Linked DNA regions of Homo sapiens: region 2 is linked to region 1. A link means that fine-mapping ties the variant in region 1 to the expression of a gene that starts in the linked region. Tissue or cell type: whole blood. Region 1 holds a variant in brackets; the other region holds the start of a gene. All regions are shown on one strand. Distances are between the middles of the regions.

Region 1 (8,784 bases):
GAGAATCGCTTGAACCCAGGAGGCGGAGGTTTCAGTGAGCAGAGATAGTGCCACTGCACTCCAGTCTGGGCGACAAGAGCGAAACTCCATCTCAAAAAAACAGAACCCTATCTACCCAGAGCACAGAGTGAAGATGGGAAAGGGAGATACAGAAATAGAAGTGGAGGAGGGAACGGGAGTGAGCCCAAGCGCCCAGGTCTATCCCCACCTGCTATGGCTAAGGTTTAGAGAATAGGTTGGACTTATTCACCATTCGTTTGTTCAACGAGGTACAGTACTTCAGCACCAGCATACACATAGCGCCTTTGCGTGAATCAGAGAACAAACACTACCTCTTTCCCAGGCAGATACAGTCTCCTGGGTGCAGGGCTTAGCTAGCAAACAATATCTCTGTGGGAGGGGGGAGTTCAACCCCTACCTGGCCACTTGGCTGACAGCCTCTATATTATAAGCAACTTACACAGATGCATCATCAGCCCTGTGTACCAGGCACTGTGCTAGATTCTGCAGAGTTTTCTTAGCTATAGAAGACCAGTCCGTGCTCTGAACTATCTAATGTTGCAAGTGTTGAAGGAGCCAGGGGAAGAGAGAGGAGGTCTTCGACAGCATGACCCTGAACCTCATGCACTTTGCTTCTGTGGGGTTCTAAGGCCAGGAAGCAGGGATGCAAAAGATGGCAGGAGGGACTGGACTTGGGCCTTCATTGCAAACCCAATGGCAGGTCAAGGCCACGGGGGTGTGGGGAGGGGCTGAAGGGGCTGACTTGGTGTCCAGGCTTGGGAGGAGCCCGGTTTGGCTGGGGAGGAAGGCACCTGGACACTACACACCTGTGTGAGGTGTGCAGGAAGTCTGCCTGCTGCCTGGAGAAGTCAACTTGCTGCTGGTCGCCTTAGGGAGGTGAAGCCTCTCCGTACTAAGCCTGGTATACAGGGAGAGCCGGTCAACTTCGACTCCTCTGAATTATCCCTGGGGCAGAATGCCTGTAACCAATTTTAACCAGAGGCCGGCAGGCCTGGCTGCATCTGATTTGTGCTGCCTTCCCCACTGTCAGCACAAGCAAGATAATGATCTTTGGGCTATCTATGACACGGGGTAACAGACTTTTGAGTCGGAGAAAGCAGTGTTCAAATTCCAGCTCCACAATTTATAAGCTAAGTGATCCTGGATAAGTCTCAAGTTTCCCTACCTGTAAAATGGATTCAATTATACCATCCCCCTAGGAGTTGATAAAGATGGAATGTGTTGATGTTTATAAAACACCCAGCACAATGCCTGTACAAACTAACCAATGTTCAGGGGATGTCATTTCACACACACACACACACACACACACACACACACACACACACACACACACACATTCTCTCTCTCTCTCACATGCACAAATACATGCGTGTGCACAACCACTTGGTTTGGGATGTCCACATCAGTGAGGTCTGACACCTGGCCCATATCATTGGGGCTGGTACAGGTGACGGGAAAGACTCTTATCTGCAGCAGAGAAATTCCTACTGTCCACTTGCTCGGAGGTCCCTCATCTCTCCTCTCTTCCTCTCCCAACCAGCAGGCTTAGAGACAGACCTCCTCTGCTGCCCACGGCACAGCCTCACAGAGCATGCCACACGCCGGACACGGCACCTCTCAGGCACTTATGCTGAAGTATGAGGTGGTATGCTGACTGGCACTGCAATGCAGTGAGGTACACCGTGGGGAGCTGAGCGGCCCTGGGATGAATTGGGGTACACTGTGGGGAGCTGAGCGACCCTGGGATGAAGTGGGGTACGGTGTAGGGAGCTGAGGTACTTCATGATGAAGTGGGGGTACAGTGTGGGGAGCTGAGCTACCCCATGATGAAGTGGGGGTATGGTGTGGGGAGCTGAGCTACCCCATGATGAAGTGGGGTATGGTGTGGGAAGCTGAGGTACCCTGGGATGAAGGAGGTACACTGTGGGGAGCTGAGGTACCCCATGATGAAGTGGGGGTATGGTGTGGGGAGCTGAGCTACCCCATGATGAAGTGGGGTATGGTGTGGGCAGCTGAGGTACCCTGGGATGAAGGGGGTACACAGTGGGGAGCTGAGGTACTCCGTGATGAAGTGGGGAATGGTGTGGGGAGCGGAGGTGCCCATGATGAATGGAGTATGGTGTGGGGAGCTGAGGTACCCCATAATGAAGTGGGGTATGGTGTGGGGAGCTGAGGTACCCTGGGATGAAGGGGGTACACTGTGGGGAGCTGAGCTACCCCATGATGAAGTGGGGTACAGTGTGGGGAGCTGAGATGCCCCATGATGAAATGGGGAACAGTGTGGGGAGCTGAGGTGCCCATGATGAATGGAGTATGGTGTGGGGAGCTGAGGTGCTCCATGATGAAGTGGGGTATGGTGTGGGGAGCTGAGGTACCCCATGATGAAGTGGGGCATGGTGTGGGGAGCTGAGGTGCCCCATGATGAAGTGGGGTACAGTGTGGGGAGCTGAGGCACCCATGATGGCGTATGGTGTGGGGAGCTGAGGTGCCCCATGATGAAGTGGGGTACAGTGTGGGGAGCTGAGGTACCCATGATGGAGTATGGTGTGGGGAGCTGAGGTGCCCCATGATGAAGTTGGGTACAGTGTGGGGAGATGAGGTACCCCATGATGAAGTGGGGCATGGTTGGGGAGCTGAGGAGGCCCATGATGAAGTAGGGTAAGGTGTGGGGAGCTGAGGTACCCATGATGGAGTATGGTGTGGGGAGCTGAGGTGCCCCATGATGAAGTGGGGTACAGTGTGGAGAGCTGAGGTACCCATGATGGCATATGGTGTGGGGAGCTGAGGCGCTCCATGATGAAGTGGGGTATGGTGTGGGGAGCTGAGGTGCCCCATGATGAAATGGTGTACGGTGTGGGGAGCTGAGGTACCCATGATGGTGTATGGTGTGGGGAGCTGAGGTGCCCCATGATGAAGTGGGGTATGGTGTGGGGAGCTGAGGTACCCATGATGGAGTATGGTGTGGGGAACTGAGGTGCCCCATGATGAAATGGGGTATGGTGTGGGAAGCTGAGCTACCCATGATGGAGTATGGTGTGGGGAGCTGAGGTGCTCCATGATGAAGTGGGGTACAGTGTGGGGAGCTGAGGTACCCATGATGGAGTATGGTATGGGGAGCTGAGGTGCCCCATGATGAAGTTGGGTACAGTGTGGGGAGATGAGGTACCCCATGATGAAGTGGGGCATGGTTGGGGAGCTGAGGAGGCCCATGATGAAGTAGGGTACGGTGTGGGAAGCTGAGCTACCCATGATGGAGTATGGTGTGGGGAGCTGAGGTGCTCCATGATGAAGTGGGGTACAGTGTGGGGAGCTGAGGTACCCCATGATGAAGTGGGGCACACCGTGGCAGGTGAGTACCCCAGGATGTAGTGGAGTACAGTGGTAAATGGAGGCTCACTGGTGAGGGCAGATGCTCTGTTGAGAAGCAGTGCTACCTTCTGCTTCATAACCCTGCCTTCTCTTCCTGCCTCTACTACTCCACTTTCAAATTAGACATCGCTGCTCAGGATTCCTTCCCTAGAAATCGACCTAAAATACCTCTCCTACAGACATGACCCTGAGGACAACCAGTGGCTTCTCACCTGGGGTCCTGGCTCCCAGCACTGTGTGCTGCTGGGTGAGAGTTCCCTTTGTGCAGAGCCCACTTACCACGTGTTGGATGGATGCGTCCATTAAGGATGGGATGGATGGAGTACAGGAGTCCATTTCGCACACATTTCCTGAGGTCTTCGAGGTGTCATGCACCTGCTGGCCTCTGGGGATCAGACGGGAATATAAACTGGTCCCTGTTCTCAAGGAGCTCACACAGGCCCCCGGCTTCACCTGGGCTAAGAGGTATGACCCACACACTTATTCAGTGTAGGGGACAGGCCACCAGCTCTGCCTTGGTAAGCCGGGGAAGGCTCGACAGAGTTGGTAATCTCCGAAGTGGGCTTTGGAGGAGGCATATGAGTGGAGGACCACGGAACAGGCATTTTAGGCTGGCTGTCAGTGGCTTCAGGAGGTTCTGACTTGGTGGGAGATACGTCCTATAGAGGTTCTCCAAAGACCCACAGTGCCATGCTGATTTTCTGAAATCCAGTGGGACTTAGGTAGGGTGACAAGGGCAGTGATGGAGCTACAGTTGTGTCCATTTAGAGGGAAGTAAGAGTGAGGATGGTCAGAGAACCTGGCTACACCCAGCTCTTGCAGTCATAATCGATTCCTTTCCAGTCAAAGAGGGTGGGAGAGTGGTTTTTCTCCCTCAGACAGAAGGATGAGGCTAGGAGGGAGGAGCTGGGTGGGCCGGGCGTGGACCAGCTTGGCCCTGGTGGACCTGCAGTTGGGCGGGAGGATGCTGGTTATTTGACTACAATGTATATTTAAAGGTCTCAGTTACAATGGGCCCCGGGCGCTCTGTAACAAGCTGCAGCTGTCCCATTGCTCATTAGCTTTCCTAACATCTTCTCGGGGCTGGTCCTGGGAGAGCAGCCCCCAAGCTCCTCCCTGTGGGCCGGGGCCCTGAAAAGCTGACTT[C/T]TTGCCCCCAGCCTCAGAGCTGCCATGATGAATGGCGCTGCTGCCCCGTGCAGACAAACGTCTTCCAGGAACAAGCCCCGTTTGTTTAAATCAAATGATCACCATCTTCTCTGGCAAAAGCCGCTCCCTGGACTCAAGGCCCAGGCCTGCCTCAACTGCCACCCACCTGTCCCTCTTCCTCTGGACATTAGGAAAGGACACATCAAGGGGTCAGGAGCAGCTCTAGCCACTGTCCTCAGAATGGGGACAGAGCAGGATCTCCAGGGCCAGCAGGGCCTGGTCGTCTTTGGAAGTGGGGTGAGAAAGGACTAAGCTTTCACAAGACATGGAGAAGCAGCCAGCAGCATGGGAAACAGGGCCTCAGCTGTGCTGCATCTGTGCTCTGAGCTTTGCACTTTCTACATGTGTCTCTACTCAAGTTACGCCTCTCCTGGCTTCAGACCCCTCAAGCATAGAAGAGTTTGTTAGGTCCACAGCTCTCAACCCCGGCTGCACACTGGGGTCACCAGAGGAACTTTTAGGAACTACTGATTCAGTTGGGTTCCAGGCACTGCCATTTCTTCCCCTCAGGCCCTCAAGCAATTCTAGCATGCAGCAATCGGTTTGAGTAGCCCCAAGGTCTCTGACCTCATGGCTTATCAGGTCTTCTTTGAAAAGTCCTGGCTGCTTAGGAAACACCTCCAGGAAGCCATCAGTTTGCAGACTGTGGGTCCCAAGAAGTTCCTGTACCAGGAGTTCTTCCTAAAGAAACCCACCTGGACTGGAGCAGGAAGGGACCCCAGAGCCCACCTTTTCCAACTTGGTTTTAGAGATGGCAAAACTGGGGAGTGCTCCTCCTCTCCTTGGGAGGACCCCCAGCTCAGACGGGAAGTGCTTTGTGAACGTAAAGCACCAACGCTGGGAAATTACTACAGATGGAGTTGTTGAGGATGGAGATTGGGGCACTGGAATTGTAACTCCTATCTGTCTCCCCAACTAGATTGTAAGCACCTTAATTGCAGAGACCAGGTCTCCTTTGTCGTGTGTGTGTGTGTGTGTGTGTGTGTGTGTGTGTGTGTGTCCTCCTGACTTAGCAATAAATGACTATGTGGATGGATGGATGGATGGATGGGTGGGTGGGTGGATGGATGGGTGGGTGGATGGATGGATGGATGGATGGGTGGATGGATGGATGGGTGGATGGATGGATGGGTGGATGGATGGATGGGTGGATGGATGGATGGGTGGATGGGGCCTTCCACAGGTGAATTTCCCTTCCTTACTTATCACTAGATTTTGCCATGGGTCACCTAGGCTGTCATCACCACGGTCACTGCTGTGAATAATGGAGTGTCAGGAGCTGAGGGAGGCAGTAGGGTATTGAGAGAACCTGTTAGCCTTGGGACTCAGGGGAGGGCCATTAATAAGGAGTAAGCATCTGAAGCTGGTCCTGACAGGCTTGCTGTGAATGGTGAGGCCAGATTACATGCCCATTGTACCCTGCTGTGAATCCACATCTCCCTAAGCCCCATCACACAGTGTAGCCGGGAATTTCTCACCCTCAAAGGTCTTTCAACCAAAAAAAAAAAAGGCCATTTCTGCCCAAGGAAGAATGTGGACCTGCAGGTTCCAGGTGGGAAGGAGAGGGGCTCAGGGTCTGGGTGAGGACAGAAGTTGGTGCTCTGACCTTAGTATGAATAACTCCAGCAAAGTCTTAATTCCTCAAAATACTGCCCAACATGCAACCGGCCACCTTTTATTGAACTTCCACGTGGGCAGACACTATGCTTGCTGAGGATACAGAGGTAAAAGAGAAAGACCCTGCCCTCAGAGGACTTATGGTCAAGGAGTAGAAGCTGTCGGGGAAAGGGCAGAGGGCTGGTGAGCCACGGAGGAGAAAGTGCTGGACAGGGCATGGACCCCAGGGGTGGCTTCATAGAGAGGCAAGATTTAAGCTCGGTGGGAGTTCTTCAGTGTGGCTCCCGGGAATCTGAATTTCTATCTCTCTCTTTTTTTTTTTTTTTTTTAGATAGAGTTTTGCTCTGTCGCCCAGGCTGGAGTGCAGTGGTGCAATCTCAGCTCACTGCAACTTCCGCCTCCTGGGTTCAAGCAATTCTTCTGCCTCAGTCTCCTGAGTAGCTGGGATTACAGGCGCGCGACAGCATGCCCAGCTAATTTTTGTATTTTCAGTAGAGGCGGGGTTTCTTTTATTTATTTATTTATTTTTTGAGACAGAGTCTCACTCTGTCACCCAGGCTGGAGTGCAGTGGTACAATCTCAGCTCACTGCAACCTCTGACCCCTGGGTTCAAGCGATTCTCCTGTCTCAGCCTCCCAAGTAGCTGGGATTACAGGCATGCACCATCATGCCCAGCTAATTTTTGTATTTTCAGTAGAGACGGGGTTTCCCCATGTTGGCCAGGCTGGTCTTGAACTCCTGACCTCAGGTAATCCACTCACCTCAGCCTCCCAAAATACTGGGATTACAGGCGTGAGCCACCGTGCCTGGCCAAATCTGAATTTCTTCTCAAATGCATGGGGGAATCTGTTGTGCCGACATGGTTAGGAATGATTTGTCTAGTGAGTGGTGGAGAAGGCATCCTAGGCAGAAGAAACTGTATGTGCAAAGAAAGGGAGGTGATCTAAGGGCACAGAGGTAACGGCAAACAGTCAAATATATGTGTAGAAACCAGGTTATTTGGGGGAAAGGGGATGCAACTAGAGTGGGAGGAAGAAAATCAAAATGCCATTTTGTTTGAATCGTTGAAAATAATTCCCCCAGGAAGCAGTAATCCATTTCAGCCTTCCTCATTCAGTGCTGATTTGCCCAAGTGGCAGGGAGATCTGGTGCCGATTACCAGGTTTCGGTGCATTAGGTAATGCAACAATAAAATCTGGGTCACTGCAGCACAAAGTCCCCTTTATTTTGACAAGTGTAGTTTTTACTCTGAAGTGTTATCATAAATAATTAAATTAAACCAGTAAATGGGTTGTAGTATGCTTTGCTGCAGTAACAAAGTCTCTGTAACCCCAGACACTGAGCCACTCCTTTGGGGGATTCTTGGCTCGGAAACATTTGGGAATTTTTCAGAAGTCAAGAATATTTGGAGTAGTCAAAGGAGAGAGGTAGGGCTGAAGGCTTGTTCCAGCCCATCCTGCTGCCCCGTTTCCCACTGGGCTTCCCCATCCTGCTGCACGCCATTCTATCATTTGACCTGTGGCAGCTTGAATCTGTAAAGGGATCACTCCTCAGCCCTAGGCTGGCCTCGAATGAAGAAGGGTAGAGAGTCCCAGTGCACATATTGGGCAGCCTCTTTTTTTTTTTTTTTTTTTGAGACAGAGTTTCGCTCTTGTTGCCCGGGCTGAAGTGCAGTGGTGCAATCTCAGCTCACTGCAACCTCCACCTCCCGGGTTCAAGCGATTCTCCTGCCTCAGCCTCCTGAGTAGCTGGGATTACAGGCATGTGCCACCATGCCCAGCTAATTTTGCATTTTTAGTAGACACGGGTTTTCTCCATGTTGGTCAGGCTGGTATTGGGCAGCCTCTTTTTTTTTTTTTCCATAATGCCCGCTCAGGCATCAGGGCATCAATAAGTAAATACTTCAAATCTTAGGGTAGAAGGTCTTGCAGGGACTCTCAAGACCACCAGACAACCCACCACCATCCATGACTTTTACCATTTCATAGACATGAAAACCAGGGAAGTAAAGTGACATGACCCATTGCTTGTTGGCCGATGGACAGGATAAGTAACATGCAGAACGTGAGTGCCAAAGACGCGGAGACCCAAAGGAGAATGTGCTGGAGACACAGGGGCTGCATGCAGGCAGAGAAAGGGGAAGTTGCAGGAGGAAGGAAAGAGGAAACGGTAAGAGGCAGGGGTGAGGTCTGCTAGAGGGCTGGGAGCTTTGAACCAAGTCTTCAGGCGGAGACCCTGAGGAGTCATCACCGGAGCCCTCAAGTACTCAGACATCTGCCCGCTGCATCAGGACAGTTCTCAAACCAAGCAAGAGAGAAATAAAATCTCTGTAGTGAAGAAGGAAAAATGGTGCTGGAGAGAATACCCAGAGGCGGAACCTGCTGGCTTTAAAGCAGGAGATTTCGGTCCCTCCCCAGGGTGAGTGGGGCTGCTTTTTGCCTCCTTCTCTACCATCTGCCCCCTCCGCTCTCCCATCGTCCTGCCTGCTGGACATCCAGGCATCAGCTTCTGTCACCCTTGTCAGGGCCTGCAGATAAGGTGGCAGTTGGTGGCCAGATTAGAGGGGGA
Region 2 (6,572 bases), 39 kb after region 1:
GGAAGTTTCACCATCCGCCCACCCTGCCCCCGACCCTCACCCACTCTCTGGTTTGGGAATCACTTCTCTAAATTCCCTATTATTCTAAGTACCCTTTCTACAGGATTTACCCTCACGCAGAAGGTGGTGGGCATTGAAGAAGCCAGAGCTCCTTACAGATGACTCTCCACGGATAACATGAAGGGGAGGGATACCTCACAAGTCTCCTGTAAATGGGAGGTGGCAGGTGGAAAGCAGCAGGCAGAAACATGGAAGGGGGAACTGGGCTTCCTGGTGCCAGAGGAGAAATCTTGAAGTGGAACTTCTTGGTAGTAGTAGATTTAGGTACCCTTCATCCACACTACATAATATTCCAGAGGTGTTACATTATTTGATCTCTGAGGGCTTTGGTAGAGGAGGGAACCCTGTAGAGGTTGAAAAGGAGACAGAAAGGGCCAAAAAGTTGACAGTCAACATCTTTGTGCACTGTTAACAATCTGGTCTGGAAAGACAGCACTGGCAAAGGTAGAGTATTTCCCAGATCTGCCATGTATCAAGTCTGCTCACATTACTGAGGAGTAGCTGTGATCTGAAATCATTATTTTTATTTCTTATTTTTTTCTGAGACGGGGTCTTGCTCTGTCTCCCAAGCTGGAGTGCAGTGGTATGATCTCGGCTCACTGCAACCTCCGTCTCCTAGATTCAAGAGATTCTTGTGCCTTGGCCTCCCAAGTAGCTGGGATTACAGGTGTGTGCCACCACGCCTGGTTAATTTTTGTAATTTTAGTAGAAACAGGGTTTCACCATGTTGGCCAGGCTGGTCTTGAACTCCTGACTCCGGTGATCAGTCCGCCTCGGCCTCCCAAAGTGCTGGGATTACAGCAAACCTCACTCAATCATCCCAGCTGGGTTAAGTATCCCTTTGTAGACTTCAACTCATTGCACTGCTAATTTCTTGTTTATTTACTTACTCTTCAATTCTGAAAAAAAGTAGGACCTTTATCTTGTTTAGTATTCTATCCCCAAGTGCCCACACAGTGCATCACAGAAAACAAGATGCTCCACAAATGTTTAATTTATTAAGTGTGCCAGGGTATACTGCTAACTCATTGCATTTTAATTTTTCTCTAGATACTCAAATAGCTAAGCAAATGAAGGTACATGCCAGTCTTTCTTCTTTTATACACAACAGACAAAAGTGTTGGGGGGCTAGACACCAACCAGCTATTTTTTTCCCCTGGAACCAGATCATCATACTGCTGAGTTCCTTCAAACCATCAAAGTACAGCCTTCCTTCCAATGTTGCATAATCTGTTCAAAATCACAGTATAAATACAAAGTTCTTCCATCCATTTTACAAAACCAGCAAAACTCTACAATAAAATCCTACAGGAAAAAGTAGACCAATCTCATTTACAAACAGCATTTTAACAGTAATTATTAAATGTTACAAAACATAAGATACAAAATCTAAATCCTTAAAGTCACACGATTTCTACAGAAATAAGACCCTCGCCCCACCCATATTACTTATGACTCAGGACAGTAGTTCGTCCTCACGGGGACCCACTGGCCAACTTTTCACCAACCCTCACCAGAGGTGGATGCCGGCCCTAGCACTGGCCCTGGCCCTCATACTGGCTTCAGCTCTGGCCTTGGCTCTGGCCCTGTCGGCCTCGTCTGCTAGGGCCTCACGGTACTGCACTGGCCAGTGCTGCGGTTCCTTCTTATGCAGTTTGGCCACGAACCCCAGGACTTCCATCTTGCTGATTTCCAGGTTGCTTCGGGGACCCCAAGAGAATTCATATTCTGGTGGATTGGTGTGAGGCACCCGCCTGTAACTGAGATATCGCTGCTGCACAAAATCTTCCATAATAAGCCTCTTCGGATACCCAAAGAGGAAATGATACTTTGAGGGTTGCACCCCCAACCGACGCAGCATCTCCCAGACCTGGGCCTCCCTGGCGCTATTACCTCTCATATAGATAAGGCCCAGGATCATCATTAACAGACCCAATCTGGGGCCATCTCCTCCCAGATCCTCCTCCTCCTCCTCCTCCAGAGGTTTTAGTTTGTTGATCAGGATGTAAGTGTGGTGCTTGCGGTCAAACTGTTTCAGCTCAAAACCAAAGACATACCGCAGATGCTCTGCGGCCCTTGCGATGATGTCCGGGAACAGAATCTTCAAGTCTCCAATAACGTATTTCACCATCTCCGAGCGTGTGATGGGACTCTTCTTCTTGTCTTTCACCAGGAGGAACTGCACCAACTCCGCCACCGTCCGATTCAGCCGGCGGTAGGCCCTGCGCCTTGCCAAGGCTTTGGCCGCCAAGGCCCTCGCGCCTTTCCGGGTGAGGGCGGGCTCCGCAGCCCCCTCCTCCCTCCCGGCGCCAAGCTCCTCCTTGGGGCGCTCCTGCGAGGCGGTCGGGGCCCGGGTCTCACCATCATGGCCGCCATCCTTCTCCCCCTCGGCCTGCGGGACCGGGAGCCCCCTGCTCTCTGGTGTCTGCAACATGTTTTCGGGCAGGCAGGTGCAGAGCGCGTACACGGGCCGAGGGGTGTGGGAGCCGCCGCGCAAGCCCCGGGGGAGGGGTTGGACAGCGGCAGTGACGGCGGGAGTACAAGGAGCAATGGCAGCGGGAGCTTTGTGGCTGCTGGGCCGCACCGCACGGGAGTCAAACCTGCGGCCGCAACGCCGCCAGCAGCCGGAACCTGCGGCGCGCAGCCTCAGTCCGCGCCCGCGCGAGGGGCCACTTCCGGCCACCTCAGCCAGGACGGCGACCCTAGTGCCGCGCGCAGCCCCTCCTTTTCCGGTCCCTTCTGGGTTGGGGGTGTGCCCAGGCTGCTATAAGTGGAAATGCCCTGGAGGGTGGGGACGGGGGTGCGCCCTGTGACGGATTTTAGGCTTGAAAAGTCGGGGGCGGGGGAATGTAACCAGGACTCTCCCATCCAAGGCATGCAGACTGGGGAATGTTTCGGTGTACAAGAGATGAAATAGGGATGGAGTGCCCCCCACGTTCTTTCTGCAAGTGCCTATTTGTGAGTGTGTGTATCTGGGATTTTCAGTGCTTTACCGGGGCTCTTGTGCAGAGTGCACGGTGAAGGCTGCGAGGTAAGACTGTGCGAACCAATTAGTAAAGGATGCTAGGGAGACTGAAATTTATTCTGGACGTAAAGAGAAAATACTGCAGCGGGATTTAAGCAAGTGAGTGTCCAGACCAGATCTGTGTCTTCGGTTCTGGCGGTATTGTGGAAGATAGATTGGAGTTCGGCCGGCTAAAAGCTAGAATCCAGTTTGGAGGATTATTATAGTGCAAACTAGGAACTGGGACCCGGCCTATTTACTGGGTTGTATCCTCGGTGCCTAGAGCAGTGCCTGACACGGAGAGGAACTCAATAAATATTCAATGGATCATTATGATGAGGGAGTAAGGACAGCAGATTCCATGGGGATAAGAGGAAAATACTGAGAAGTACAGCAGGAATAGGGACTGGTTGGAAGAAAGGGGAAGTTTGTTCTTTTTTTTTTTTTTTTTTGCGCAAGTCAAATTTGACTACTCCCATGTATTTCTTTTCTTTTTCTCTTTTTACACACTCTGAGCTTTCTTCTGCTTCTTGCTCCTTCCTTCCTTCTTTCCTTCCCTCCTTCCTTCCTTCCTCCCTCCCTTCCCTCCTTCCCTTCCTGCCTTCCTTCCTTCCTTCTTTCCTTCCTTCCTTCCTTCCTTCTTTCCTTCCTTCCTTCCTTCCTTCTTCCCTCCCTCCCTCCCTTCCTTCCCTGTCAGAAATGCCCTCTCTATCACCTCCATTTCTCCAAATCCTGTCCACTATTCAGGGCCCAGTTTAAACATCACCTTCCCAAGCCTTCCTTAGTCACCACGCATAGAAGTTATTTACTGTCATCTCTGAATCACCTTAGCAATTGTTAACATCCACATATATAGGCTTTATTAGGTGCCAGGCTCCGTTCTAATCACTTTTCAAATATTAATTCATCAGATTCTCACTAATGTAGGTACTAATACCATCATCCCCATTTTATAGATGATTGTATCTTTTCTGTGACACAGTTTGCTACTTACTAGCTATGTAATCTTGGGCAAGTTACCTAAACTTCTGCCCTTCTGTTACCTTATCAGTAAAATGAGTATAATAGTAGTAACAGCATTGTGGAGATTATGTGAAGTAATGCACATAAGCATTTAACACAGTGCTTGGCACATATTGATATTCAATACATGTTAGCTGTTAATTAATGCATATTTTTATATGCAATATACAATATTAGAATTGCAAGATGAACTGTCCTGGAATGCCTAGCACTCTGTGGAGATGCGGAGGAGGTGTCCTGGGACATAGCACTGAACCGGGTCAGTACTCACCCATTCTGTGACCTTGTACAGGATGCTCAAACACCCTGGGCCACTTTTTTCTGATACTGTAGCCCTGCTAGGTAAGTGGTATTAGCCCCATTTTCCAGGTGAGGTTACACACAAGGAGGTTAAGTAACTTGCCCAACATCACACAGCTGGGATGTGAACCCATATAGTATGACTCCAGAGACTGTGCTCTTAACCACTACATTCATAGATGTTAATTATTATTATTATCATTTACTATATTTTGTATTATAATTTGTTGTGCTTATCTTATTACCCTCCCCAAACCAAACATCCTAAAAGCTAGGGCTATGTTTTTAACTCTTTTGAAGAGCTTCTCTTAGTCAATACTCGATATATAATTGCCAATGAATAAATGACAGAAGGCTTTACTTTTTTCCCTAGGAAATAACAGTTACTTATTTTAAGTAAATATCTGATAGACTTTTCTAAATCTAAATATGAAATCTTCCTTTTAAAAACTTTTGAAAATTTATACCCACTTGTATCATATGACTTACAAACCTGGAAGTATGTGAATGAAGCAGGAGAGGATGTTTATTATAGCCTAGCTTGAGGCTATTATTAGTTTTCATTGTGCCAAACATTCTATGTACAATATAATTTTGTCCTCACAAATCCCTATTAAGAAGGTATTATTATCCACATTTACAAATGGGAAAACAGTCACAGAGAGGTTAAATCACCTGCCCTGAACCACCCATCTGTTAAGTGCTAGACAAGAAATGAAAACCCAGATCTGTAAACTCTGAAGCAAGACTGCCTGGTTATCTGTTTTTCCTGAAGGTAGAGAGAGCCACCCATACCTAAAAGGACAGTGCTAGAGATAAAATAGTCCACTTACATATTTTCCTCACTACAAGGATTGCCAGGGAGATATGCAGGAGATACATGCACGGAAAGGAGCATGCAGAAGATATATTAAATGAAAAGAATTTTGAGGGACAAATCTGTGGTAATAGGGCTGGATTTTAAGAACTGAATAAATGACGATACTACTCATAAGAAGGAACAAACTACTGACACAATGTGAATGAGTCTGGCAGATATGTTGAGTGACAGATGAAAGATACAAAAGATTATACGTATAATATGATTCCATTTATCTGATGTTCGAGGCAGGATAAGCTAATCTATGGTGATAGAAATTAGGACAGTGGAGGCCTGGGGTGGTGTTGACTGGAAAGGGGTATCCAGGAACTTTCAGTGGTGATGGCAACGTTCTGTGTCTTGATTTGGATGTAGGTATACATTTGTCAAAACTTGTGAAACTGTACGCTTAATAGCTATGCATTTCTTTTCTTTTCTTTTCTTTTCTTTGCGACAGGGTCTCACTCTGTTACCCAGGCTGGAGTGGTGCAATGGCACAATCTCAGCTCACTGCAACCCCTGCCACTGCAACCCTTGCCTCCAGGTTCAAGTGCTTCTCTTGCCTCAGCCTTCCAAGTAGCTGGGATTACAGGCACCTGCCACCACACCTGGCTGATTTTTGTATTTTTAACAGAGACGGGGTTTCACCATGTTGGCCAAGCTGGTCTCAAACTCCTGACCTCAAGTGATCTGCCTGCCTCAGCCTCCCAAAATGCTGGGATTACAGGTGTAAGCCACCATGCCCAGCCAGGTATGCATTTCATAGTGTATGAATCATACCTCAAAATTTATAAAAATAAAAAAGGATTTTAAAAAATGAACAGCCCTTTAGGTATGGGAGGAGGCGAGGAGTAAGAAAGGTGAATGGACTCTGCATTACCACTTGCCGATCGCTAGATGTTACCATGTTACAGTGGAAGGAATGCAAACAATAATTTTTCCCATTTTTTTTTTTGTTATGTCCACCATGTAACCGGACACACAGAATTTTTTTTTTTTTTTTTTTTTTTTTTTGAGACGAAGTCTCACTCTGTCGCCCAGGCTGGAGTGCAGTGGCGCATCTCGGCTCACTGCAAGCTCCGTCTCCCACGTTCACGCCATTCTCCTGCCTCAGCCTCCCGAGTAGCTGGGACTACAGGCGTCTGCCACCATGCAGCTAATTTTTTGTATTTTTTTTTTTAGTAGAGATGGGGTTTCACCGTGTTAGCCAGGATGGTCACGATCTCCTGACCTCGTGATCCGCCTGCCTCGGCCTCCCAAAGTGCTGGGATTACCGGCATGAGCCACCATTTCCGGCAACAGGCAGACTTTTAACACATTCCTTAC

What was found. PIP is the estimated chance that this variant, and not a neighbour inherited with it, causes the effect.
Region 2: MAGEF1 starts here. The variant in region 1 is fine-mapped to the expression of MAGEF1 in whole blood (INTERVAL, PIP 0.95).

Annotation. Positions count from the first base shown.
Region 1 is chr3:184,668,762-184,677,545 of GRCh38, forward strand. No RefSeq gene overlaps it. Among named protein-coding and RNA genes, the nearest start is that of MAGEF1, 39 kb to the right of the region's middle. RefSeq lists an enhancer at 4,026-4,527. The variant C/T (reference allele first, on the strand shown) is at 4,540.
Region 2 is chr3:184,709,328-184,715,899 of GRCh38, forward strand. It overlaps MAGEF1 (MAGE family member F1), which reads right to left and starts at 2,737. Exons shown (of 1, transcript NM_022149.5): 1 at 1,037-2,737. The coding sequence starts at 2,494. The coding sequence ends at 1,571. It overlaps LOC107986163 (a long non-coding RNA gene), which reads left to right and starts at 2,916. Exons shown (of 5, transcript NR_160768.1): 1 at 2,916-3,091; 2 at 5,704-6,572. RefSeq lists an enhancer at 1,937-1,996.